2 linked regions of the Homo sapiens genome follow. The protein of the gene in region 1 interacts with the protein of each later gene in a pairwise test. Each region holds a gene or a part of one and is shown on either strand. Other genes may lie near its edges. The genes, in order: CRLF3 and KCTD21.

Region 1 (15,878 bases):
GGACATGTTAATTAGCTTAACTATAGTTAACAGTTCACTATGTATATGTGTATCAAAATATCACACCTTAAATATAATTTCAGTTAATCTTTTTTTTACTAAATTGAAGAAGATGGTTATACAGTGCTTTTAGATTCATGTGAATTATACCTTTGGATTAGCCTTTTTTAAAGATTCTGATTTTGAGTATTTTGTTATTTCTTTTTAGATCAAAGAAAGTGCATCACAGACAAGGGATGTTCTCAAACAGCATTTTAATGATTTAAAGGGAACCCTTGGAAAGCTCCTGGATGAGCGATTGGTGACCCTTTTGCAAGAGGTGGACACCATTGAACAGGAGACCATTAAACCACTAGATGACTGCCAGAAGCTCATAGAACACGGAGTCAACACTGCAGAGGACTTAGTCCGAGAAGGTGGGGGACCAGGGAGCCTGTTGTATTAGTGCATTCGTCCATTTTCACACTGCTGATAAAGACATACCTGAAACTGGGCAATTTACAAAAGAAAGAGGTTTAATGAACTTACAGTTCCATGTGGCTGGGGAGGCCTCACAATCATGGCAGGTGAAAGGCACATCTCACATGGCGGCAGACAAGAGAAGAGAATGAGAGCCAAGCGAAAGGGGTTTCCCCTTAAAATACCATTAGATCTCATGAGAGTTATTCACTACCAAGAACAGTGTGGGAGAAACTGCCCCCATGATTCAATTATCTCCCACCGGGTCCCTCCTGCAACACATGGGAATTATGGGAGTACAATTCGAGATGAGATTTGGGTGGGGACACAGAGCCAAATTATATCACAGGTTAAATGTGGTTCGTTCAGATTGACATTTTGCTGATTTCTCAGGATAGCAGCAGGCTTCTTGCCAGCTGTGGGGTTCTTAGAATGTTCTTACCTAGAGACAGTTTGTAATATAGGATGACAGATATACCGTTAGGTATCGCATGGCAAGTGCAGTTGAAGTGTTAGTTATAATTAGTTATAAAACAAGAAAGAATAAATGATATGGGGCACATTGAGATGTTTTGATACAGGCATGCGGTGTGTAATAATCACATTGTGGAAAATGGGGTATCCATTCTCTCAAGCATTTATCTTCTGTGTTACAGTCAATCAAATTATATATATATATATATTTTTTTTTTGACACAGGGGTTTTGCTCTGTTGCCCAGGCTGGAGTGCAGTGGTGCTGTCAGAGCTCACTGCAGTCTTGACCTCCCTGGCTCAGGTGATCCTCCCACCTCAGCCTCCCAAATAGCTGGGATTACAGGCGCGTCCCACCATGCCTGTAATTTTTTAGTATTTTTAGTAGAGACAGGGTTTCACCATGTTGCCCAGGCTGGTCTCGAATTCCTGGTCTCAAGCAATCTTCTCATCTTGGCCTCCCAAAGTGCTGGGATTACAGGCAAAAGCCACCACAATTACAGTCTCCATTGTTTTATTTAGAAAGTTTAAAAAAATGTGATTGGTGTTTACTCCTATCTTTGCCAATTATTTCCATTGAGTCATGCCCTGCTGCCTTCCTTTCTTCATTATACCACCTTCCTTCAACAGAGATCTTTGTCAGGCACATAACATAAACAAGGGGGCCAGGTGTGGTGGCTCACGCCTGTAATCCCAGCACTTTGGGAGGCTGAAGCAAGTGGATCACTTGAGGTCAGGAGTTTAAGACCAGCCTGGGCAACAGCCTGTCGCTACAAAAAAAAAAAAACTTAGCTGGGCATGGTGGCATGCACCTGGAGTCCCAACTACTTAAGAGGCCGAGGCGGGAGGATCCCTTGAGGCCAGGAGATTGACACTGCAGTGAGCCGTGATTGCACCACTGCACTCCAGCCTGGGTGACAGAGTAAGACCCTGTCTCAAAAAATATAAAATAAGACTAAGAATAAAGGCCGGGCACGGTGGCTCACGCCTGTAATCCCAGCACTTTGGGAGGTGGAGGTGGGCGGATCATCAGGTCAGGAGATCAAGACCATCCTGGCCAACATGGTGAAACCCCGTCCCTACTAAAAATACAAAAATAGCCGGGCGTGGCAGCGCATGCCTGTAGTCCTAGCTACTCGGGAGGCTGAGGCAGGAGAATTGCTTGAACCCGGGAGGCGGAGGTTGCAGTTAGCCGAGATTGCACCACTGCACTCCAGCCTGGGTGACAGAGTGAGACTCCCTCTCAAAAAAAAGAAAAGAATAAAATAGGTGAGAGTTCTTTCCTTTGGGATTCAGAGCCCAGTGAGAGAGAGATACATGCTAAGAGATCAAGACCTTATTGGAGCATAGAGGAGGAAGTTCTTAACTTTGTCTGGAATAGTGTGGGATAGCTTTCTGTAGGAAGAGTTCCACAGAGGCTTGAAGCAATTCATCCAGCAGACATAGGAAAAAGAGGAGGTAACAGCATGATTCCAAGCAGAAGTAACATTATCATAAGTGGAGTGAATGGCATATTCAAGGATTAGTTGAAGCATTTTAAGCAGCAGAGTGACAGGATCAGATGTGCATTTAAAAAAAAAATGACCCTGCCTATTTGGAGACTATGTTAGAGATTGTAAGACTAGAGGGAAAAGAGACTGATTAAAAAGTTATTAGAGGCCGAGGCCAGGCTAACACCTATAACCCCAGCACTTTGGGATGTCAAGATGGGAGGATCACTTGAGGTCAGGAGTTTGAGACTAACCTGGCCAACATGGTAAAACCCCATCTCTACTAAAAATACAAAATTTAGCCAGACGTGGTGGTGGGCACCTGTAATTCCAGTTACTCGGGAGGCTGAGGCAGGAGAATCACTTGAACCTGGGAGACAAAGGTTGCAGTCAGCCAAGATCACAACACTACACTCCAGCCTGGGCAACAGAGTGAGACTCCGTCTCAAAATAAAAAAAAATTATTAGAAACTGGGCACGGTGGTTCATGCTTGTAATCCCAGCACTTTGGGAGGCTGAGGCGGGTGGATCACTTGAGCCCAGGAGTTCAAGACCAGCCTGGGCAAGATAATGAGACCCCATCTCAAAAAAAAAGTTATTAGAAAGTAATCCAGGTAGGAATGGTAAAGGCGGTGGCTGGTAAAGATGAGGCAGGGCTGATTTTAAGAGATTTTGAGCCAGGCACAATGGCTCACACCTGTAATCCCAGCACTTTGGGAGCCTAGACAGGAGAGGAGGATCATTTGAGGTAAGGAGTTCGAGACCAGTCTGGGCAATGTAGTGAGATTGTCTCTAATTTTTTTAAAAAAAAATAGCTAGGCGTGCTGAGCACAGTGGCTCACACCTGTAATCCCAGCACTTTGGGAGGCCGAGGCAGGCATATCACAAGGTCAAGAGATCAAGACCATCCTGGCTAACACAGTGAAACCCCATCTCTACTTAAAATACAAAAAGTTAGCCAGGCATGGTGGCAGGCGCCTGTAGTCCCAGCTACTCGGGAGGCTGAGGCACGATAATGGCGTGAACCCAGGAGGCGGAGCTTGCAGTGAGCCTAGATCGTGCTATGGCACTCCAGCCTGGGCGACAGAGCGAGACTCCGTCTCAAAAAAAAAAAAAAAAAAATTAGCCAGGCATGGTGGCACACACAAGTTGTCCCAACTACTCAGGAGGCTGAGGTGGGAGAGCTTGAGCTATGATTGCAGCACTGCACTCCAGCCTGGGCAACAGAGCAAGACCCTGTCTCTTAAAAATAAAAACAAAAAAACAAGACAGAGTTTTTTTTTTTTTTAAGAAGTAGAATTATTGATGATTTTACTGAGCAGTGACTGTTATCTGTAGATGATTACCTACATATGTGATGGAGGGGAAAGGAAAGGATTTGTGATAACAAAAATCAGCCTACTTTTGGATTCTGAATAAATAGTGGTGCTGTTTTTGACAAAGGAATTGAAGGAGAAGGCGGGTGCTTAGTACGTAGTTAGGCATTTGGCTTGGGCATGGTGAGTTTGAGGTGCTTAAGATGGAAATACGGGTATGATTCTTAGGAGAGAGATCATACCAGGAGATGTCAGTATGGCAGTTAATGGCATATATATCAAATCTGAATCTATTGGAATAAGTACAATCATCAAGGGACACCGTGTAATGTGAGAAGAGCAGATGAAAGAGATTAGAACGCTAAGGGTCACCAACATTTAAAAGTCATTTGAGGAAAAAGGAGCTAGGGAAGGAGACTGAATTCCATCTCTTCTGCAGAATGAGTGCTGGGAGTGGTGTGGGAAAAAGGCGTGGATGATTCACATGGCTGTCACTCCACCTGGAAGTTAATCTTCTTTTGGTCCCACTTAGAATATAGTATGGGTGTTATCTTGACATTGCTGGTTACATTTTTGTCTTGTCTTCAATGAGAAGTGTTTATTTGCCACTGACCATAACAGTACTTTTGAGAAAATTCTAGCAGTACCATGAAATGTCTTTCCTTGGTGGCTTTGCATTTGGAAACAAACCCAGAAGCAGTGCACCACGGGCCAGGAGTGTACACTCATCACCCTGAGGACTGATCATTTGTTTTTATTTTAGAAGATAAATCCTGGCCGGGCGCGGTGGCTCGTGCCTGTAATCACAACACTTTGGGAGGCCGAGGGGGGCGGATCATCTGAGGTCAGGAGTTCAAGACCAGCCTGGCCAACATGGTGAAACCCCGTCTCTACTAAAAATACAAAAATTAGCTGGGCATGGTGGTGGGCACCTGTAATCCTAGCTACTCGGGAGGCTGAGGCAAGAGGTTGCAGTGAGCTGAGATTGCACCATTGCACTCCAGTCTGGGCGACAAGAGCAAGACTCCATCTCAAAAAAAAAAAAAGATAAATCCTGGCTGGGCATAGTGGCACATTCCTGTAGTCCTAGCTACTTGGGAGGCTGAGGCGGGAGGATCCCCTGAGCCCCAGAGTTTGAGGTTGCAGTGAGCTGTGATTATACATCACACTCCAGCCTGGGTGACAGAGTGAGACTCTGTCTCAAAAAGAAAAAATCCCTTTGAGGCAGTGTGAGTGTTACAGCATTTGATACTTGAATATTTTTGTATGTCCAAAATTTAATTTAATTAATTAACTTATTTATTTTTGAGATGGCGTGTTGCACTGTTGCCTGGGCTGGAGTGCAGTGGCACGATCTCAGCTTGCTGCAGCCTACGCCTCGCAGGTTCAAGCGATTTTCCTGCCTCAGCCTCCCGAGTAGCTGGGATTATAGGCGCCCGCCACCACGCCCAGCAAATTTTTTGTATTTTTAATAGAGACAGAGTTTCACCATGTTGGCCAGGCTGGTCTAGCACTCCTGACCTCGTGATTTGCCCACCTCGGCCTCCCAAAGTGCTGGGATTACAGGCGTGAGCCACTGTGCCTGGCCTATGTTTTTTAATTAAAAAAAATTATTATACATCTCAGCAGCAGAAGGAAACTTTAGGAATATTTTTAATGTCAAACTCTTTCCTATTCTCCTGAGGGATAGAAACTTACTTATGGAATTTTGAGGATTTTATTTATTTATTTACTTATTTTTGAGACAGAGTCTCACACTGTTGCCCAGGCTGGAGTGCAGTGGCACGATCTTGGCTCACTGCAACCTCCACCTCTCGGGTTCAAGCGATTCTAGTGCCTCAGCCTCCCTAGTAGCTAGAACTACAGGAGCGTGCCACTATGCCCAGCTACTTTTTGTATTTTTAGTAGAGACGGGGTTTCATCATGTTGGCCAAGCTAGTCTTGAACTCCCAACCCCAGGTGACCCACCAGCCTCAGCCTGCCAAAGTGCTGAGATTATAGGCATGAGCCACAGTACCCGGCCATGTCTCTGTTTTTCTTTTGGTGAAGGAGAAGGTCATATGGTCTCAAAAAACTTGAGTAACTACAGGGCACATTTAGATGGAAAAGAGTTCTGGCAGTGTTCTTCAGGGCTGTGGAAGGACATAGAAGTTGGTCATTTTCATATCATATGCCTCTATGTAACTTTTTTTTTTGGCGGGGGGGACGGAGTCTCGCTCTTTTGCCCAGGCTGGAGTGCAGTGGCGTGATCTCGGCTCACTGCAACCTCCATGTCCCGGATTCAAGTGATTCTCCTGCCTCAGCCTCCCTAGTAGCTGGGAATACAGGCACCTGCCACCACACCCAACTAATTTTTGTATTTTTAGTAGAGACAGGGTTTCACCATGTTGGCCAGGATGGTCTTGATCTCCTGACCTCGTGATCCACCTGCCTCCGCCTCCCAAAGTGCTGGGATTACAGGCGTGAGCTACCGCACCCAGCCTGACATTTTCTTTTTATTGTTCTGTTGAATAATTTGTAATCTGATATATGATACTCTTTTAGGAAAACATAGATGCATCATTTGGCTTTTCAAGCCTTATGCCCAGCCTGGGCAACATAGTGAGACCTCATCTCTACCAAAAAAAAAAAAAAAAAAATAGCTGGGCATGGTGGCGTGCACGTGTGGTCACAGCTACTTGGGAGGCTGAGATGGGAGGATTGCTTGAACCTGGAAGTTCAAGGCTGCAGTGAGTTATGATCCTACCACTGTGCTCCAGCATGAGTGACAGAACAAGACCCAGTCTCAAAAAAAAAAAAAAAAACACCCTATCCCCTGTTGCACCTCTCAGGGCAATATTTTGTACTGGCTCCTATTGAAGTTCATAATGATTCTGTAGGAGAGATGGAAAGAAGTCCCTGGGCTTTCTGCTTTGCCTAAAATTGGTTGATTTCCTTGTATAGAGTAGATAGATTTTTCATCTCTGGCAAAATGTTGCCACTGTATATCCCTTTTCCTCTTGGATTTGATCTTAGAGTCACGTCTAAAATAGTTTCTACTTTAACTTTTTGGGAATTTGACTGTGGCATCACTTAAGAACTTATTTGCAAGAACGCTAGAGACCCACCCAGACATGAGTTGTGTTGATTACTTTATATGTGACCATTTTCATTGTTCTAGTTCTCTTATTCTTGATTGTAGGTGAAATCGCCATGCTTGGTGGTGTGGGAGAAGAGAATGAGAAACTGTGGAGCTTTACCAAAAAGGCCTCGCACATTCAGTTGGACAGGTAAAAGAGTTTGTGCCTTTTTGACTTACTTTTAAGCATTTAAACTATGTCTGCTTTTTTCCTCCCTCTGTTCAAGATTCTCATTAAGGGAGATAGAGAATATATATTTCAAGGTTTTCAGACCATGCGTGGTGGTTTACACCTGTAATCCCAGCACGTTGGGAGGCCAAGGCGGGTGGATTGCTTGAGGCCAGGAGTTTGAGACCAGCCTGGCCAACATGTTGAAACCCTGTCTCTACTAAAAATATAAAAATTAGACGGGCATGGACCTGTAATCCAGCTACTTGGGGAGGCTGAGACAGGAGAATTGCTTGAACCCAGGAGGCAGATGTTGCAGTGAGCCAAGTTTGTACCACTACACTCCAGCCTGGGCAACAGCAAGACTCCATCTCAAAATAAGTATAAAATAAAATAAAAAATTATCCGGGCATGGTGGCGTGCGCCTGTAAGTCCCAGCTACTCGAGAGGCTGAGGCAAGAGAGTCGCTTGAATCGGGGAGGTGGAGGTTGCAGTGAGCTGAGATCGCACCACAGCACTCCAGCCTAGGGGACAGAGTGAGACTCTGTCTGAAAAAAAAAAAAAAAAGCGTTTCACTGCCCATTACCACTGTTACTAATGAAATAGTTGTGATTATAATCCTTGGTATAGTATTACTACACATTTTTTCAATCCAATATATAAAAGAATTGTTAAATTTTAGAAATTATCAATGTATTGTTGAAATGGAGTCATATTCCAGTAAACCAGATCTTTTGGCTTAAACTGGACAGTTATGATCCTACCAATTTTCTGTCTTACTTATATTTATTTGAAAAGAGAATCTTTGTGTAACATCTTGCAAATCCCCTACTGCCATGAGAATTAATTACTGGGGGCTTCAGGATCTTTCAAGCATGTGACTGCTCTAAAATATTTCTTGTATTTTTTAACTCTCAGTTAGAGGTCTCATAACACATGAGCTTTGTTTCCTCAGCTTACCAGAAGTACCTTTACTGGTTGATGTGCCTTGTTTATCTGCTCAGTTGGATGACTCAATTCTTAACATAGTGAAAGACCACATTTTTAAGCATGGAACAGTAGCATCTCGCCCACCAGTACAGATAGAAGAACTAATAGAGAAACCTGGAGGCATCATTGTACGATGGTGTAAGGTATGTAATTCAGAATTCTAGAAATGACTTCCACATTATGGGTTTGCGATTTGGAGGCCTTTCAGATTTTTTCGTTGACTACTTTTAAATACATTCTTTTCTTCTCAAACAAAAATCTCTTTTACTTTACAGTTAAAATGAAGTCACATGGAACACTGAGGTAGCTCTTCCAGTTTTATTTTTATTTTATTTATTTATTTTTTGAGACAGAGTTTTGCTCTTTCACCGAGGCTGGAGTGAAGTGGCGTGATCTCGGCTTACTGCAACCTCCATGCCCTCCCCCGCCTGCCGCTTCCCCCGGGTTCAAGCCATTCTCCTGCTTCGGCCTCCTGAGTAGCTGGGATTATAGGCACCTGCCATCACACCTGCCTAATTTTTGTATTTTTTGTAGAGACGAGGTTTCACCATGTTGGCCAGGCTGTTCTTGAACTCCTGACCTCAGGTGACCCACTCGCCTCGGCCACCCAAAGTGCTGGGATTATAGGTGTGAGCCGCCGTGCCTGGCCTTTTTTTTTTAAATGAAGCCTTGCTGTGTCGCCCAGGCTGGAGTGCAGCGATGCAACCTCCGACCTCAGGTGATCTGCCCACCTTGGCCTCCCAAAGTGCTGGGATTACAGGTGTGAGCCACTCCGCCTGGCTGACATTTTCTTTTTTTTTTTTTTTGAGACAGAGTTTCGTTGTTGTTGTTCAGGCTGGAATACAATGGCACGATCTTGGCTCACCACAACCTCCGTCTCCCGGGTTCAAGCAATCCTCCTGCCTCAGCCTCCCAAGTAGCTGGGATTAAGGCATGCGCCACCACACCTGGCTAAGTTTGTATTTTTAGTATTTTTGTATTTTTAGTAGAGACAGAGTTTCTCCATGTTGGTCAGGTTGGTCTCAAACTCCCGACCTCAGGTGATCTGCCCACCTCGGCCTCCCAAAGTGCTGGGATTACAGGTGTGAGCCACTGTGCCCAGCTGAGATTTTATTAAAAGGAAATTTTTTTTTCTTTTTTTATAAACATGCTGTTGTTATTTTCTAACAGGACTGTCATTCCATTTTTATTATTTTTCCTATCAGTGGACCTAGTTATTTCCAGTTTTTTGCTATAAGTATTTTTACTTGTGTTTCTTTATGGACATATGTGAAGTTTGTAAAATATTAATATTTACCTAGGTGTAAAATTATGAGGTCTTCTTAGAGTATTGGATCCATACGCTGATAGGTAATAACAAACTTTCCACAAGATGATTCTATCAATTTAGCCTTCCAAGGAGTATATGAGTTTCTGTTATTCCATATCTTGACCAATAATTGGCATTGTGAGACTTTATATTTTTGCCTAAATGTACCTTGTTGTGGTTTTATTTATTTGTTTGTTTTTGAGACAGGGTCTCACTCTGTCACCCAGGCTGGAGTACAGTGGCACAATCATGTCTCCAGTCTCAATCTCCTGGGCTCAAGTGATCCTCCCGCCTCAGCCCCCAAGTAATTGGGACTTCAGGCATGTGCTTCCACAGCCAGCTAAGTTTTGTAATTTTTTGTAGAGATGGGGTTTTGCTGTGTTGCCTAGGCTGGCCTCAAATTCCTGGGCTCAAGTGCTCCACCCGCTTCGGCCTCTCAAAGTGTTAGGATTATAGGCATGAGCCATCATGTCTGGCCTTGTTGTGGTTTTAGATCGTATTTGCCATATTACAAATTAGGTACAAATTAGGTTGAATATTCATAATATACATTTTTGGCTATTTATGTTTCTTCTCCTGTAGAACGCTTATTTATGTCTTTTACCCATTTTTCTATTGGGTGGCTAATTAACATACAGAATATATGCAGGACCCCTAAAAATTAATGGGGGTTCTGTATACTGTATGTTAATTATCTCTTGGTTATTATGAATGATGTATGGTTGTGGGAGACTTACTGAATCTTGAATGTTTTATCTTTGGCATTGATTAAAAAACATGCCATTTCTTCAAAGGAGGCAGACTTTTTTATATCAGACTGGGAAATACAGAACACATGGTTCAATAAAGAAAAGAAGGGAGCCCAGGCGCAGTGTCTCACGCCTATAGTCCTAGCACTTTGAGAGGCTGAGACGAGAAGATTGCTTGAGCTCAGGAGTTAAAGATCTGAGATATGGTGAAGCCCAGTCTCTACAAAAAATACAAAAAATTAGCCGGACATGGTGGTGTGCACCTGAAATCCCAGCTACTTGTGGGGTGGAAGGAAGAGGATGGCTTGAACCCGGGGTGTGGAGGCTGCAATAAGCCGAGATCACGCCACTGCACTACAGCCTGGGTGACAAAGTGAGACCCTTTCTCAAAAAAAAAAGAAGGGAGATAATGATGTGATGGCATATTTTCTATGGCCTTCCCAAGAATACCCCATATTCAGCATGTGGGCCTGTCTGCTTGGTCCAAAATGGCTCCGTTCAAAATTTTTAAGCAGTGATGCTGAGAGAAGTCATTTTCTGTTTTTTACCTAACATAAAGCTTTTCTCCCTAGGTGGATGATGACTTTACAGCCCAAGATTACAGGCTCCAGTTTCGTAAATGTACTTCAAATCATTTTGAGGATGTATATGTAGGTTCTGAAACTGAATTCATAGTATTGCACATAGACCCCAACGTTGATTACCAGTTCAGAGTCTGCGCCCGAGGAGATGGCCGACAGGAGTGGAGTCCTTGGAGTGTCCCCCAGATAGGTCATTCCACATTGGTGCCTCATGGTATGCTGCTAACCTTTTCTCTCCTGAAGCCTAACTATATATTAGAATACCTGTATTCTGTGCTAAGGGCAGCACACTGACAACCAGCTATTCTAAGCATAGATCCTGAATTGATAAGAACAACATGCACCATGTCTTTTACTCAGATTACCTCATGTGATTTTTGTTTTCATCAGTTCTTCAGAGTCCAAAAAAAATGCTGGACAAGATTTTTAGCCTCATTGAAAACCAAAGATTGAAAATATTATGTAGGGCACTGATATTCCTTTTTATTCTTTTTTTTATATTTGAATGTTATTTAGTTAGTTTTTTTGAGACAAGGTCTCACTCTGTCGCCCAGGCTGGTGTGTGGTGGTGCAATCATGCAGCCTGACCTCTAGATCCTTCTGCCTCAGTCTCCCAAGTAGCTGGGACCACCTGCATGCACACCACACCTGGCTAATTTTTTATTTTTTTCTAGAGACTGGGTCTTGCTATGTTGCCCAGGCTGGTCTCAAATTCCTGGGCTCAAGCAATCCTCTTGCCTCGGCCTCCCAAAGTGCTGGGATTACAGGCGTGAGCCACCGCGCCTGGCCTATTAATTAGATTTTTATCAGGTTGGAATAAGTTCAAGCAATTATGCTTGTACAATGATTTTATTAGATAAGAGATAACACTTGTGTGATTTATTATGTCAAAATTATGCAGGAATATACTAAAATCTTTTGTAATTTGTGGGACTGATCATGATACCCTGTTAATGGAATCTTTTATTTTATTGAACTTGACCATGGCCCCTAAGAGTAGTCTCCCATTTCCATGTTTTATTTAACGTGTCTGTATTGAAGATATCCCTCAAGAGATTCTAACAGTTTTCAATATCTTTGCTTTGAAAAAGAGTGGACAGCTGGTTTTGAGGGGTACAGTCTGAGCAGTCGAAGAAATATAGCACTTCGGAACGATTCTGAATCATCGGGTGTTCTCTACTCCAGAGCTCCGACTTATTTCTGTGGGCAGACATTAACATTCAGGCAAGTAGATATTAAAACATCTCACCTGCCTCAGGAAGCAGAGTGAAGTGCATAGAGCATACATAAGCTTTGAATTCAAAACATCCTGAGTTTATTCCGTCATTTATAGGCAGTGTTACTGTGGGAAGGCTTCTTTATTTCCTGTAGCTGTAGTTTTCTCATCTGTATTCACAGGGTTATTACGTAGATTAACTGGGAAATGTATATAAAATGCTTGTTATTTAATATGTTTATATCTCTTTTCCTCTTGGTAAGTAGAGGTAAGTAGAGTATCTCTCAAAAGTCAATCTTAGGCTGGGCATAGTGGTTCACACCTGTAACCCCAGCACTTTGGTAGGCCGAGGCAGGTGGATCACCTGAGGTCGGGAGTTCGAGACCAACCTGAGCAACATGGAGAAACCCCATCTCTACTAAAAATACAAAATCAGCCGGGCATGGTGGCACATATGCCTGCAATCCCAGCTACTTGGGAGGCTGAGGCAGGAGAATTGCTTGAACCCAAGAGGCAGAGGTTGCAGTGAGCTGAGATCATGCCATTGCACTCCAGCCTGGGCAACAAGAGCGAAACTGTGTCTCAAACACACACACAAAATTAAAAAGTAAATCTTAAAAATTTAGAGGCCTGGCCAGGCACGGTGGCTCACACTTGTAATCCCAGCACTTTGGGAGGCTGAGGCGGGCGGATCACGAGGTCAGGAGATTGAGAACATCCTGGCTAACATGGTGAAACCCCATCTCTACTATAAATAAAAAAATTAGCCGGACATGGTGGTGGGTGTCTGTGGTCCCAGCTACTCGGGAGGCTGAGGCAGGAGAATGGCGTGAACCCGGGAGGCGGAGCTTGCAGTGAGCCGAGATCACGCCACTGCACTCCAGCCTGGGCGACACAGCAAGACTCCGTTTCAAAAAAAAAAAAAATTTTAGAGGCCAAGAGACTGGACGCAGTGGCTCACACTTGTAATCCCAGCACTTTGGGAGGCCGAGGCGGTTGGATCACTTGTGGTCAGGAGTTCGAGACCAGCCTGGTCAACCTGGTAAAACCCCATCTTTACTAAAAATACAAATATTAGGACAGGCGCAATGGCTCCCGCCTGTAATCCCAGCACTTCGGGAGGCTGAGGTGGGTGGATCACAAGGTTAGGAGATCAAGACACCACCCTGGCCAACATGGTGAAACCCCATCTTTACTAAAAATACAAAAATTAGCTGGATGTGGTAGTGCACACCTGTAATCCCAGCAACTAGGGAGAGTGAGGCAGGAGAATCACTTGAACCCGGGAGGCAAATGTTGCAGTGAGCCATTGCACTTCAGCCTGGCAACAGGGCAAGACCCGTCTCAAAAAGAAAAAAAAAATTAGCAGGGTGTGGTGGCACACACCTATAATCCCAGCCACTCAGGAGGCTGAGGCATGAGAATTGCTTGAGCCTGGGAGGCAGAGGTTACAGTGAGCTGAGATCGCGCCACTGTACTCCAGCCTGGGTGACTGAGCGAGACTCCGTCTCAAAAAAAAGAAAAAAAGCATAGGCCGGGCACTGTGGCTCATGCATATTATCCCAGCACTTTGGGAGGCCGAGGTGGGCAGATCACGAGGTCAGGAGATCGAGACCATCCTGGCCAACATAGTGAAACCTCGTCTCTACTAAAAATACTAAAAATTAGCTGGGTGTGGTGAGGTGCGCCTGTAGTCCCAGCTACTCGGGAGGCTGAAGCAGGAGAATCACTGGAAGCCTGGAGGCGGAGGTTGCAGTGAGCAGAGATCGTGCCACTGCACTCCAGCCTGGGAGACAGTGCAAGATTCCGTCTGGAAAAAAAAAAAAAAAAAAAAAAAAAAAGCAAAAAAATTTACTGGCCAAGAATTTGTTTTGTCCTTTGTGAATCATTAACAGCAAGTCTTTGTAAGAGACAACACTGTAAACATATTATGTATATGCTACTCTCTAAAGTAAAACTGAAAGCAAGCCTCCCCTACCACTAATTAATGTTGTTTCTCTACCCATTTCTTTCTGTAATGGAAAAGTTTCTTTTTTCTTGTTTTCATGTTATCTGAGATGTATTCTTTATAGTCATGTTTCTGAATAGCTCTTCGTAGAAACTAAAGACCAGTTTTGACTTAGAGAAGTAAAGTTTGCCTGATTTTCACCATACTCACCTTAGTGTAACAAGCTCTCCTCTAAGTTTTAAGTCTTGAGATGGGATTTTATTGTGAATGCTTGACCCAAGTTCCTTTTGTTCTCAGGCCCTTATTATTTAAGGCATGGAGAATATCTGAATATTTTATCTAAGCCAGTGTTGCTGTATTCCTCTCCAGCTAAGTAATTTGAATTGTCAGCGGTTGTCAGATTATACTAGTTTGTTTTGTCTAATTTTTGACACCTCACCCCTTAATGAAGAATGACTCAGTAAACAGAAAAATACCAACAAAGAGAGAGAGAGGAAAAAAAAAAACAACTAATACCTAAAATCTATTTAACTATTCCCCAGGTAATCATGAGTTTTCTGTACTTACATACCCCTTCTCTGCTTATGTCCCTTGTTTACAGAAGCACTTCGGTTAGTGACTCTCCTGAGAACAAGGTATTTCTGTGCAATGACAGAGCTTCCTAACTTGATAAATTCAGGCCAGATATCTCAGACTGCAATAATGATGATAATAATAATAATTGCAGTTAATATTTAAACAGTATTTACTATGTGCCATGTACTGTCTTAAGTATTTTACTTGTATTAACTCATTTGATTTTCATGGTAACCCAGTGAGATAGATGGGTTATTTATTTTAGGGATGAGGAAACTGAGGCATAGAGAAGTTATTTACCCAGTGTCACACAGCTAGTAAATGCCAAAACTAGGGTTTAAATCCAGGCAGTTCGACTCCAGACTGGTCTGTATTGCTTCTTTTTCATGGGAGAGTTAACATGATTCTAGTTAGTGTTGAAGTCTACAGTTTCTCTATTACTGTGTCCTTAGCTCTTTAACTTTTACCTCTTATGACCTTTCACCACTTGATCTGATGCTCTCCTGCTTTTTAAATTCTTCCTCCTTGGACACATGGTAATGTCTGATAGATTGCATAGTTAGGTTTATTTCTTAGACCATTCAGTAAATATTTATTAAGACATTGGAAATTATACAAATTGATTTAAATTCACCTCTGCTGACCGTGATGTGAAAGACACATTAGGTCTCAATAAACTGTTGAGTCTCTCTTGCATCTCCTAAAGATGCATCACCAGGCCCCACTTGGCAGGGTGATTAACTGAAATTCAGTTAAACTCAATATAATGGTAGCCAGCCTTTTGCATTTTTGTCATTTTTTTCTTTGTGGAATGAAATGTTTTCTCCCCTTGTTTAAAGGAATTTCAGGCATCAGCAGTGAAGCCAGAGATGTGAATGCAAGGGGGACTCCATGCATAAGGGCATAAGGGAGGAGCAAGTGCGCCTACTTGAATCAAGAGAAACAATATTTAGTTTTTTGAGGGTACTTAAGGGCCTAGTAGTTAGAAGGGAGACTATACTCTTGAAGGCACTACGTTAGCCGGGCACGGTGGCTCACGCCTGTAATCCCAGCACTTTGGGAGGCTGAGGTGGGCAGATCACGAGGTCAGGAGTTCGAGACCAGCCTGGCCAATATGGTGAAACCCCATCTCTACTATAAATACAAAAATTAGCCGGGCGTGGTGGTGTGTGCCTGTAATCCCAGCTACTCAGGAGGCTGAGGCAGGAGAATCGCTTGAACCCAGGAGGCGGAGGTTGCAGTGAGCCGAGATCACGCCACTGTACTCTAGCCGGGGCAACAGAGTGAGATGCTGTCTCAAAAAAAAAAAAAAAAAAAAAAAAAAGAAGGCACTACTTTGTTATTTATCCCAGTCAGTCCCTGCTGAAGCTTCTGGAAGGCTTGGAGCTGCTGAAGCCAGAGAAACCTGTGATACTGGCTGGATTTTAACAGTCTCTAGACCCACTCTCATTAGATGCCCAGGTCTGCTAGCAACCCCCTCCTTCC
Region 2 (13,398 bases), on another chromosome or scaffold:
ATAACCCCAGCACTTTGGGAAGCAAAGGCAGACAGATTGCTTGAGCCCAGGAGTTCAAGGCCAGCCTGGGCAACATAGTGAAACCCCATCTCTACAAAAACTACAAAATTTAGCATGGTGTGGTAGCGTGCACCTGTAGTCCCAGCTACTTGGGAAAATCACCTGAGCCTGGGGATGTCAAGGCTGCAGTGAACCATGATCGCGCCACTGCACTCCAGCCTGGGCGACAGAGTGAGACCCTGTCTCAAGAAAAAAAAAATTCTAATTGCCCAAAAATACCTTATATAGTTTCTGGTTTTTAAAATCAGATCCAGTCAAGATGTACATATTGCATCCTATTATATCTCTTTTATCAACTCATTTAATCTAAATAGAGCCCCTTGGCATGGTAGCTCATGTCTGTAATCCCAACATTTTGGGAGGCTGAGGTGGGCAGATCACTTGAGGTCAGGAGTTCGAGACCAGCCTGGCCAACATGGTGATACCCCATCTCAAGTAAAAATACAAAAATTAGCCGGACATGGTGGTGTGTGCCTATACTCCCAGCTACTCAGGAGGCTGAGGCAAGAGAATTGCTTGAACTCAGGAGGTGGAGGTTGCAGTGAGCCGAGATTGTGCCACTGCACTCCAGCCTGGGCAACAGAGTGTGACTCTATCTCAAATAAATAAATAAATAAATAAATAGAGCTTCTCCACCTATTTAAATATGTTTGATTGGTTTATCAATGATTAGATTGGGGTTAGATTTAAGTTTTTGGCAATGTGTGTACTTACTGCATGTCAGGAGGATATGATGTCAGGGTCTTACTATCCATGAATGCTAAATTTGATTATTAAGGTCATGGCAACCTGATCTCTCTATCGTAAAGGTAAATTTTTCTCTCTTACAATTAATAAGTAATCTGTGAAGTGATTCTCTGAGTCTGTTATAATTATGTGTTCCTGATAACCTTTCACACCACATCCTTGGATGATCCTTGCTTGAATTACAACACTGAGGGTTGCAAATTGGTAATTTTCTAATTCTGCCATTCCTTCTGTGTTTATTAGTGTTCTTTTTTATAGAATTAATTTTTCCTGGCCGGGTGCGGTGGCTCACGCCTGTAATCCCAGCACTTTGGGAGGCCGAGGCGGGCGGATCACGAGGTCAGGAGATCGAGACCATCCTGGCTAACAAGGTGAAACCCTGTCTCCACTAAAAATACAAAAAATTAGCCGAGCGAGGTGGCGGGCGCCTGTAGTCTCAGCTACTCGGGAGGCTGAGGCAGGAGAATGGCGTGAACCCTGGGAGGCGGAGGTTGCAGTGAGCCGAAATCACACCACTGCACTCCAGCCTGGGCGACAGTGAGACTCCGTCTCAAAAAAAAAAAAAAAGAATTAATTTTTCCTGTCTCTATCTTTCTCACTCCCTTCTTCTCACCCTCTTTTTTCTTTTGGGAATAACATTATGGACTCTTGTTTTTTGTTTGTTTGTTTTTGAGATGGAGTCTCACTCTGTTGCCCTGGCTGGTGTGCAGTGGCACGATCTTGGCTCACTGCAACCTCCACTTCCCAGATTCAAGCGATTCTCCTGCCTCAGCCTCCCAAGTAGCTGGAATAACAGGCGCACGCCACCCCGCCCAGCTATTTTTTGTATTTTTAGTAGAGATGGGGTTTTGCCATGTTAGCCAGGCTGGTCTTGAACTCCAGACCTCAGGTGATCCGCCCGCCTCGGCCTCCCAAAGTGCTGAGATTACAGGCATGAACTACCGCACCCAGCCTGGACTCTTGTTTTGTTGTTGTTGTTTTTTAATTCACTGGGCTATATGAACTCACCTTGAACTTTTCCTGTGAAAGTCCAGGAATCATCAGTTTCTCCAGGAAGCCCTGGTTTCTTTTAGAAGAGATGATGACATTCAGAAACAAAGATCCAGGGCTAGGTGTGTTTATTGCTACTGGGTGTCATTTCTAGGCTCTGTGAGTGAGCAGAGCTAGGAAATGATGGATAGGTGATTGATAGATAGATGATAGATGGACAATTTTCATTACTCAGTACATTTATTGTTACAACAGCTAGTCCCCACTGACAGGATTGCATGGTAAGTCATTTCATTATGGAAGTAATGCTCATTATGGAAGTGGACAGTAATGTAGGAAAAAAGGAAATTGCACAGAAAAGAGCTCTTGCCTACTCCAGGTCGCCATGAGTATACAGACTGTTGGCTAGGACCTCTGTGGCTGGGTTCAGCTTCCTGCCGAAGACGTCTAAAGGACTGGTTCTCTGAAGGGTGTCCAAACCAGAACTTCCCAGAGGCCATGACTCTGAGGTCAAGAATCCACATGAAGCCCTGGGCAAGGGATTCACGCTCTTTGGGTCTGCTTTAGGTTGTCTTTGAAACAAAGACAATGTAATCGGTCCTGCCTGGGTCCCAGAGTTGTAAGGATCAATATATTTATCAATATGTTTATTTTTAAACATTGCTAGTTGTGTCTCTTCACATTTATTACCAAATTCCTTCTCTTCTCATTGTTTTAAAACCACAGAGGGAAATGTCATTGCTTTATAATCTAGTTTAATACATTGCGCTAAGATGTCTTATTCAAATACTCTTTCAGGTTATCAGTCATCAGTGCTTCCAGATTAAAATTTTAATTATTTAAATCTTTTTTGAAAAATACTATTGGGATTTGGATTAGGATAGCATAACAACTATAATTAATTTTGAGGGGGGGGGGGTGCTTTGGGATAAGGCCTGGCTCTGTCACCCAAACCAGAGTGCAGTGGCACAGTCTTGGCTCACTGCAACCTCCACCTACTGGGACAAAACCAATTATTAAAATAGAAGAAGTTCCTATAGCTATTATCACTTGGGAAATTACACAGTTTTTAGCCCTGGCCAACAGCTGGGGACAAATCTAAAATGTATATTGCTTATTATATCACAGTATCACACAACCCCTCCCCTGAGTGCAAGGCGGTGACTATGCAGACGTGAGACATGCAGTTGCTCTCAGCTCACAAACTAGGCAGTGGTTTCCAAAAAAAATTGTTTTGTCAGCCACAGTATGAAGATACCATGATCCAGTTCATAGACACACAACTGAAACAAAAGTTTCACAACAATATATAATTGGTTACAACCCACTTAACTGTATTGATGTCATGACTTGCCAATAGGTCACAACCTTCATTTTTTTTCCTGTTTATGGAGGTAAAACTTAAGTATGGTAAAATTTACACTTTTTTTTTAATTGAGACAGGGGTCTTACTATGTTTTCCAGGCTGGTCTTGAACTCCTGGGCTCAAGTGACCCTCCTGCCTCGGCCTCTCAAAGTACTGGGATTATAGGCATGAACCACCACAGCTGGCCACAATTCACCCTTTTAGATGTGTATGGTTACATGAATTTTGACAGTCTTTATAAACACATTTGACCACCACCACATCATATTACTTTTGTGCCAACCTAATAGAATATTCCCATCACTCCAAAATATGCCTTGTGTTTCTTTGTAACCAGTCTTTTCCCTCCAACCCAGCCCCAAGAATTCACTTAATCTGATTTCTGTCTTTATAGTTTTGCCTTTGCCAGAACGTTATACAGATAGAGTCATGTACCATGTAACCTTCTGAGGCTGGCTTCTTTCACTTGACGTAATGCTTTTGAAATTCATGTATGTGGTAATGTCTTTTAGTAGTTCCTATATATTGCTGAGTCATATTCTATTGTATGGATGTACTGCAATTTATCTGTTTACAATTAGTTGTTTCTGAGTTTGGGCAATTATGAATAAGCTGCCATAAACATTCACATATGAGTCTTTGCATGGACATATGTCTCCATTTCTCCGGCATAAATACCTAGGAGTAGGGTCATTGGGTCACGTGATAATTGTATGCTGTATTAGTCCATTCTCACACTGCTAATAACAACATACCCCAGACTGGCTAATTTACAAAGGAAAGAGGTTTAATTGACTCACGGTTCCACAGGACTAGGGAGGCCTCAGGAAACTTAAAATAATGGTGGAAGGGGAAGCAAACATGTCTTTCTTCACATGGCAGCAGCAAGGAGAAGTGCCAAGCGAAGGGGGAAACCCCTTATAAAACCATCAGATCTCTTAAGAACTCACTATCACAAGAACAGCATGAGGAAAACCGCCCCAATGATTCAATCATCTCCACCTAGTCCTGCCCTTGACACATGGGGATTATTACAATTCAAGGTGAGATTTGGGTGGGGACACAGAGCCAAACCATACCATATGTCAAACTATTTTCAACAGCGGTTACCATTTGTCAGCAGTGTATGAGGTTTCCATTGTTCTATGTACTCACCTTCAATTGGCATTGTCAGTTTTTATATGAGCCACTAATAGGTATATAGTAGCATATAATTGTGGTTTCAATTTTCATACTCTCATGACTGATGATATTGACCATCTTTTCATGTGATTGTCAGTCATCTGCATATCTTCTTTGCTGGAGTATTTGTTAGATCTTTTGTCTAGTTGTTTTGTTTTTGTTTTTGTTTAAGTAGAGATAGGGTTTCACCATGTCGGCCAGGCTGTTCTTGAACTCCTGGCCTCAAGTGATCTGCCCGCCTCAGCCTCCCAAAGTGCTGGGATTACAGGCATGTGCCACTGCACCCAGCTTTATGTGTTTTTTAATTGGGTTATTTTCTTACTGAGTTTTGAGAGTTCTTTATATATTCTGGTTAACAATCCTTTATCAGATAGGTGTTTTGCAAATATTTTCTCCATCTGTGTCTTATTCTTTCATTTTCTTAACAGTGTCTTTTGAAGAGCAGAAGTTTTTTACGTGGATGAAGTCTAGTTTATTGATGTTTTTAATGGTTTGTCCCTTTTAGGTCCTATCCAAGAAATCTTTGCCTAATCCACAGTTGCAAAGATTTTCTCCTAGAAGTTGTGTAGTTTTAGATTTTATATTTAGGTCTATGATATGTTCTGAGTTTATTTTTCATAAACAGCATAAGAGATGGACCAAGGTTCTTTTTTTCCCCATATGGATGTCCACTGATCTGCATTTTGAGATAGCCAGGGAAGAGGGCCATGTGCAAAGGAGATCGCTGCAGGTGGAATGCTGGGTGCTGCCAGAGGGGGTTGTGCAAGGCACCAGGAAGCCCTGAGAGGAGAGCTGTTAACCTAGTGGAGATCTGGGGACAGTAGTACAGAGGTGATGACTCATAGGCTGGGCCTGAAAGGTAGACAGCAGAGAGGGTAGAGAAGGTAGACAGGGGTGGTCTAGGGACAGCAAAGGCAGGGCAGGTGTCAGCATGAAGGAGACTGACTCAGTGGCGTCTGGCGTGCGTGGAGGGCAGGGTTAGACATGAGAGGGAAAGAGGAAGGTGGTTGGGCAGGGACGGTACTTCAGGAAGGTCAGTCTGCAGACCAGAAAGGAAGGTGGACAGAAGGCAGGGAGCCGAGTGAGGATGTAGGGGTGCAGGGGGCAGGGATGAGGCCTGAGCTCTGGGAGTAGCTATAGGGATGGGTTCAAGGAGATAGTCAAGACAAACTGTAGGGCTGAAGAGTCGGGGCTGCTTCCCTCAGGCAGTTGGGTGGCTCAGAAGAGTTCACAGCAGAGTTAGGGGCAGAGGAAGGCACAGGTGAGGCTTCTGGTACCTGTGTTACTGGTGGAGGGTCTTGACTAGGAATTTTCCAGGTCCTTGGCGTTTTGAACAAAGTAGCAGAGGGGCAGACGTGGTAATCCCCACACTTTGGGAGGCCTGGATGGGCAGATCACTTGAGGTCAGTCCAAGACCGGCCTGGCCAACGTGGTGAAACCCGTCTCTACTAAAAAAAAAAAAAGTAAAAATAAAAAGAGTAGCAGGGGAATGAAATGCAGGAATGAAGCAGTGAAAGCAGGAATTAAAGTGAGAAAGCACTCCTCAGGGTGGGAGTGGGCCGGAGCAAGGAACTCAAAGGCCCAGTTACAAAGTTCTCTGGGCTTTAGGTACCCCATTTGAGGTTCTTATCAGCTACTCCTTATCTGGACGAAGGATTTAGTCTGTGGCTAATTAAAGGCTGAGGTGAATGGGCACCCTATGCAGATAAAGGGATGGTCCCAATCCAAGGCCCCCCTCCCTTTCCACCTGAGACATGGTGGAGTGGGAGGGTTGCAAAGAGGAGCGTTTGATCCTTTGTCACCCAGCTGGGGCGATGGCGTTTTTCCTCTTGGTTCAGCTTTAGGAATTTGGTGTTAATTGGTCTTAGGGTCCCTGCCCCCAGACCCAGGATTTTCCTTCTGATCCAGCTTTGGGAAGTCAACAGAATTGGCCTCAGATTTTTTGCCCCAGACCTTGGTGTTTTCTCTTTTATGAAGTTAGCACAAATTGGCCTTAAGTTCCTTGTCTCCAAACCTTGTTCTCCTGCCTCACTTGCAGAATATCCAAGTGGAGGTGGCCAGGAGGCATCTGGGAACACATAGGGGACTGAGGCTCAGTGGTGTTAGTTCATTACTACCTGACTGCAAACCTCCGCCGACTCATGAAACTCCCCTCGTGTCATGTCATTTTGCCTTTTGTAGCAGGGCCGTGGATTTGTGATGATGGACACTGTGGCCCTGTGGCTAGAAAATAGGGGCTTAGACCAGGCACGGTGGCTCACGCCTGTAATCCCAGCACTTTGGGAGGCCGAGGCGGGCAGATCACAAAGTCAAGAGATCGAGACCATCCTGGCCAACATGGTGAAATCCCATCTCTACTAAAAATACAAAAATAAATTAGCCGGGCCTGGTGGCGTGCACCTGTAATTGCAGCTACCCGGGAGGCTGAGGCAGGAGTGTCGCTTGAATCTGGGAGGCAGAGGTTGCAGTGAGCTGAGATTGCGTCACTGCACTCTAGCCTGGCGACAGAGCGAGACTCCATCTCAAAAAAAAAAAAAGAAAAGAAGGGCTTAGAGGACTGAGCTCTGTGACTGGATAGGTAAGGGGAGATCACCACAGAGAGCACCCTAGACTCGGAGCAGGAGACCTGCCTGCTAGCCAGCCTCTGCCCTGACTGCCTGTGCAACTGTGCTGCTCTCCCCAGACAAATGACCGGGAGCCATGACGTCATCGGGGGCGCAGGAAAGCAGGTGCTCTGCTGCTTTTGCAAGCAGAGAAATAAGAGTTTGGGCACCTACCCAGGGGTCCCAGGGAATGCCCTGTGGCTCCTGACCTCCCCCGCCTGTAATGCTCTGAGCACTTCAGCAGTAATGCATGGAAGAGATAAGGGTCTGTGACCCATGGAACTGTCCAAGTCCTCTCTGACACCCGCTTCTTTTCCTGCCGTGAAGGTAAGCCACTTTATAGATCCTAGGCCTGAAACCCAATGTTGGGAGGGAGTGTTTGTTTTCAAGAAGAAAGAGAGACTGAAACTAGAACATGCACATTTCTATCCAGAAGAAAACAGTTGGAGTAGACTAGAGTCCTACAAAGAGGGCAACAGGGAAGAAGATTCTGGACTGAGTAAAGGGGACCCACTCCTGGGTCCACCTCCTGCCTGGGCCCTCTGGAGAGAGAATTGGCCAGATTCAGCCCTGAGTCACAGCACCCTCCCCAGTTGCTGCCTCACAGCCATCTCCACACCAGCAGCCATGCCCCCAGCGGCAGCTCGCCCACACCTCTGTGGGACCTCCCCACCGTCTCGCAGCCCATCTGCTCCAGGCTTCTACTGACGATTTCGTATTTCACATGGACTCATTTCTCCTCAGACACTCCAGATGGGGAATGCCTTTCTGCAATATCAAAGTGCCCCATTAGACTGGGGAGGAATCATGAGGGGACATACCCCTGCCCCTGCCACAGAGTCGAGCATGGCAGCTGAATATCTCTCACACTGGCATGGCCCCCATCCTCTGGAGAAAGGAGGCCTCAGTGCAGTCAGCCTCTTCAGGAGGCAGAAATGTTGAGAAGTTCTCGCCACCCCTGCTGGGTGACTTTGGGGAGGTGTCTCCTCAGACCTCTGTTTCTCCATCTGGACGGTAAGCATGCTTGAAAGGTTGGGTTTTTGTTTGTTTTTTGAGACCGGATCTCCCTCTGTCTGCCAGGCTGGAGTTCTGTGGCGTAATCACGGCTCACTGCAGCCTCAACCTCCCAGACTCAAGCGATCCTCCCACCTCAGCCTCCCAAGTAGTTGGGACTACAGGTGCTCGCCACCACACCCTGCTTTGTTGTTGTTGTTGTTGTTGTTGTTGTTGTTGTTGTAGAGACAGGATTTCGTCATGTTGGCCAGGCTGGCCTTGAACTCCTGAGCTCAAACGATCTGCCCACCTCGGCCTCCCAAAGTGCTGGAATTACAGGCATGAGCCACTGTGTCTGCCAGCCAGATAGTTTTTGATGTGCCAAGGTTCATTCCAGACCATCTCCCACATCTTCTACCTGTCTTGTCACTGTGCCTTTACTCTCTCATCTCCTCTACCAGCACAGGCTCTTCTGGGGGTAATACTGGGGCCAGTTCCTCTTGGCATCCCTACCTGCCATGTCAGGGAAGGATTGCTGAATCTGGTCCACAGGTTGGCTCTGGGGAAAGTATAGTGTTGGAAGCTGGAGCTGAGATCTCCTGTTTTCTAGAACATGTGGTGAAGGAGACTTGCCAGCCATAGATGCTGACAGCTGAGAGATTAGGGGGGCTTTGTTAAGGAGTGGATAGGGTGCCTTCAGGAGAGTGCTCTGACAGAGTCCTGCATTTGCACTGACCTTGCAGCCAGTTTCAGAGAAGCTTGGGGTGTTATGACAGCAAAGGACAGGCCACCAGGAGCCAAGAGCATCTTCATGGCAAGGCAAGTCAGCATGGGAGCAGTGAAAGTCTAGAAAGGATTGTCATTCACATGCACACGTATGTTTATTGCGGCACTATTCACAGTAGCAAAGACTTGGAACCAACCCAAATGTCCAACAATGATAGACTGGATTAAGAAAATGTGGCACATATACACCATGGAATACTATGCAGCCATAAAAAATGATGAGTTCATGTCCTTTGTAGGGACATGGATGAAATTGGAAATAATCATTCTCAGTAAAGACTACTGCAAGGACAAAAAACCAAACACCGCATGTTCTCACTCATAGGTGGGAATTGAACAATGAGAACACATGGACACAGGAAGGGGAACATCACACTCTGGGGACTGTTGTGGGGTAGGGGGAGGGGAGAGGGATAGCATTAGGAGATATACCTAATGCTAAATGACGAGTTAATGGGTGCAGCACACCAGCATGGCGCATGTATACATATGTAACTAACCTGCACATTGTGCACATGTACCCTAAAACTTTAATAATAATAAAATTTAAAAAAATTTAAAAAAAACAGGATTGTCATTTGCAGTCCGGACAGCTGAGTGACCCACTGTGGGCCTTGAAGATAGATGGAAATGACACTAATCATGGCCATTCATTGTCAAATCTTTGAGAGAGAATAATAATTAAATTCAGCAGTGTCACTGGTACAGAAGGAGGAGCACTGAGCCTGGAGTCATAAATCTCAAACCATTTGTTGAGTACTTAGAACCGATCTTTGGCTAGTAAGCATTTACACATTTTTCTTTCATATAAAAGGACCTGAGTTTGAATCCTGGCAAGGCACTTCACCTTTCTGAGCTTGAGGAATGAATCCTGGCACAGTTTTCCTCATCTGCACAACAGGAATGGATGATTATATTGTCTGTGTCAAAAGATGATACAACCTTTTTTTTTTTTTTTTTTTTGAGACAGAGTTTCACTCTTGTTGTCCAGGCTGGAGTGCAGTTGTTCAGTCCCGGCTCACTGCAACCTCCACCTCCTGAGTTCAAATGATTCTCCTGCCCCAGCCTCCTGAACAGCTGGGATTACAGGCACCCACCACCATGCCCAGCTAATTTTTGTATTTTTAGTAGAGATGGGGTTTCACCATGTTGGCCAGTCTGATCTTGAACTCCTGATCTCAGGTGATCTGCCCGCCTCGGCCTCCCTAAGTGCTGGGATTACAGGTGTGAGCCACCGCACCTGGCTGATACAACTATTATGTAAGCAAATATATGTATAAACACGTAGCATAGCTTTCAGTCCAGGCACGTTTTCCTTTCTTTCTTTAGACCAGTGGTTCTCTATTCTAACTGAACATTTAGAATCACTAAGGGAACTCTTTCAAAATACCAGGGCTGGGGCAGTATTCCAGACCAATTAAAATAGAATGTCGGCAGCAGAGGGGGGCGCGGGGGACCCAGGCTTTAGGGGTCCTTCCCTTTCTTTCCCTGTTTCCTTTTTCCTTTCCTTTTCCCTTTCTCCTTTCCCTCTCCCTAGTGAAGCTAATGTACTTTGCACAGTGTTAGCAATTATCACCCATTCATCAGGTATTAATTCATTTCGATCCCAAGGGCATAGGCTTGATGTACAATAAGGAGTTAAGGACTGTGAGTTCTCTGATAAGGTTTGGTTATAGTCATTTCTCACTTCTCACCCTCTCCAGGACTACTTCCAGCAACCCAGTCTCCTGCCATGTCCGACCCCATCACGCTGAACGTCGGGGGGAAGCTCTATACAACCTCACTGGCGACCCTGACCAGCTTCCCTGACTCCATGCTAGGCGCCATGTTCAGCGGGAAGATGCCCACCAAGAGGGACAGCCAGGGCAACTGCTTCATTGACCGTGACGGCAAAGTGTTCCGCTATATCCTCAACTTCCTGCGGACCTCCCACCTTGACCTGCCTGAGGACTTCCAGGAGATGGGGCTGCTCCGCAGGGAGGCCGACTTCTACCAGGTGCAGCCCCTGATTGAGGCCCTGCAGGAGAAGGAAGTGGAGCTCTCCAAGGCCGAGAAGAATGCCATGCTCAACATCACACTGAACCAGCGTGTGCAGACGGTCCACTTCACTGTGCGCGAGGCACCCCAGATCTACAGCCTCTCCTCTTCCAGCATGGAGGTCTTCAACGCCAACATCTTCAGCACCTCCTGCCTCTTCCTCAAGCTCCTTGGCTCTAAGCTCTTCTACTGCTCCAATGGCAATCTCTCCTCCATCACCAGCCACTTGCAGGACCCCAACCACCTGACTCTGGACTGGGTGGCCAATGTGGAGGGCCTGCCAGAGGAGGAGTACACCAAGCAGAACCTCAAGAGGCTCTGGGTGGTGCCCGCCAACAAGCAGATCAACAGCTTCCAGGTCTTCGTGGAAGAGGTACTGAAAATCGCTCTGAGCGATGGCTTCTGCATCGATTCTTCTCACCCACATGCTCTGGATTTTATGAACAATAAGATTATTCGATTAATACGGTACAGGTAAAAGGACCCCAACAACACTGGAGATGGGGAGTCCCAGGAAGCTCATGTCAGCCAGGTCTTGGAGGGCATCTCGCCAGTGGTGCGAGGCAGGGGACTATACTAATCTGTATTAATTGTGTAGCAGGACTTGATTCCCCCCATGATGAAGTCCACCTTTTGGAATCCAGTGTCCTCTGAACAGAACCACCTTTTTTCTTGCCATTTTGAGCTGCAGACAGGCGGTTTATTATGACAAGTGAAGAGTCAGCTGATGTGTACTAAAGGAGGCCATAGGAGGATTTTCCAGCCAGGACAAAAGAGCAGCAGTTTTCTCCTGGGCTCCATCTCTCTGTACCGCTAGCCAGTGCCGCATTTATCCATCTGTAAGAAGGCCCTGGTGGAGAGGATGGGATGAGAACAAGAGGCTACCTCCAGTTAACCAGGACATAAAGTCCCCAGCGGTTCCTGTCACACCTGCTCCTCCCTCCCCAGGGTGCATCCATGATCGTGGATGTTTGCCCAGGGGTGACCATGTTTGGCTGGCTTGGAATGCTGTGCATTCTCAGAGCTCTGTTAGTGTCCCCTCTTGGGGGTCAGAGATGAGGTGTGGCAGGGTCTAGAGGAATGAGTGTCCAGGCAGAGTTCAGAAGGTAGGAATGTCCCTCTTGATAGGGCTGAATCAAGGGATTCCTGGCTTTAGAAAGGGTCTGCTATCTTTGCAAAAATGTGCAAGTATCTGTAGCCAGTGTAATGAAATCACTTCCAAATCCAGCCTGTTACCTGACTTTTGTCATTGTTTTCCCAAAAATTTGAGGTATCATTGAAACAGGTCATTTTAAACAAATCTATTACGGATTCTCAGGGTTGGAAATAATTCGATGATTGCTTAGTCCTCCCCCACCCCTAGAACACCCCAGCACATCTGAAGATGAGCGCCTCTCCCTGGGTACCTGCAAGTGATCACCTTGGCCTGCTTGCATACCTTGGCTGATAGGAAGCGCGCCATCCCCAAGGCAGCTCCTGCTGTGGTTGGACAGTGCTGACTGTTAGACAGTTCTTCCCTATATTGAGCCAAAATCTGTCCTGCCACTTGCTGGATCTTGGTTGCAGACCTTCCCATTCACCCAGTTATATATCTTTGCTTTCAAAATAGTCACCTTGAGAGACCAGACATTTTTCTGAAAACATCATTACTCAGAATTCAGATTCCCCTCTGGGATCTGTCTTCAGAATCAAAGTTAGCTCTTTTCTATCCCCTGTAAGTCAGTCCCCTTTTGTTGTAGCTTCACCTCGTTTGTGACCCCCACTTCACCCACCTTCCCCACCATCTGTGGCTCCATATACCTTTCGACCATTTTCTGCTGGAAGAGGAAGATTCACGGCCCCTGAGGAGATCCAGAGGAAAGAGACGGTCTCCAAGGGTGCTGTGCAGCAAGGAGCCCAGGAGTGGTATGAACCGTAACAGTGCCCTTAGAGTAAATGTGCGGCCCCTAAGACCCTGCCCTCAGGAAGGCGGCCTTCCCCTGCAGTCCTGTGTCCCACCCCTGGGTCTCTGTAGGGTGCCATCCAGGGCAAGCAACCCAAGCACTGCTTCCCACCGGGTGATGAGCCATGCAGGCCTCCAAACTGCACGTCATGATTCATCCCTAAAGTGAGTTTGGCCTTGAGAGTCCCCAGGGTCCTCCCCCACTGGGCAGGGGTCCTCAAAGCCAAGGAAGCCTGGTGACACAGGCACCCATGGGAGGTGGGCCCAGAAAGGGGCTTCCCATAGATAGGCCCTGTGAGTAGGGAGCTTGTACACTGGGCCATGGGCAGCGCCAGTTCCCTTGAGCAGTAAAGGCCCTTTTCCCCCTACGGTGGGACCCAGGAGTCTCTCTGACAGCTTTTCTGCCAGGCACAGTGGCTCATGCCTGTAATCCCAACACTCTGGGAGGCCGAGGCGGGAAGATCACTTGAGGTCAGGAGTTCAAGACCAGCCTGGCCAACATGGTGAAACGTCGTCTCTGCTAAAAATACAAAAATTAGCTGGGTGTGGTGACAGGCGCCTATAACCCCAGCTATTTGGGAGGCTGAGGCAGTAGAATCGCTTGAACCCAGATAGCAGAGGTTGCAGTGAGCTGAGAGTGTGCCATTGCAGAGAGACTCCATCCCAAAAAAAGACAGCTGTCCCAGGCCAAG

The links.
Region 2: the proteins of CRLF3 (region 1) and KCTD21 interact in binary tests that used the Homo sapiens proteins (3 or more experiments, as listed by UniProt).

The regions. Positions count from the first base shown.
Region 1 is NC_000017.11:30,788,439-30,804,316, reverse strand, and holds part of CRLF3 (cytokine receptor-like factor 3), read left to right. Parts: intron 1-208; coding exon 209-416; intron 417-6,918; coding exon 6,919-7,006; intron 7,007-7,979; coding exon 7,980-8,157; intron 8,158-10,644; coding exon 10,645-10,867; intron 10,868-11,486; exon of another isoform or gene 11,487-11,744; coding exon 11,745-11,877; exon of another isoform or gene 11,878-13,679; intron 13,680-15,878. UniProt on the Homo sapiens protein: May play a role in the negative regulation of cell cycle progression.
Region 2 is NC_000011.10:78,171,616-78,185,013, reverse strand, and holds part of KCTD21 (BTB/POZ domain-containing protein KCTD21), read left to right. Parts: intron 1-7,028; exon of another isoform or gene 7,029-7,883; coding exon of another isoform or gene 7,884-7,962; intron 7,963-10,430; coding exon of another isoform or gene 10,431-10,459; coding exon 10,460-11,242; 3' UTR 11,243-13,398. UniProt on the Homo sapiens protein: Probable substrate-specific adapter of a BCR (BTB-CUL3-RBX1) E3 ubiquitin-protein ligase complex mediating the ubiquitination and subsequent proteasomal degradation of target proteins. Promotes the ubiquitination of HDAC1.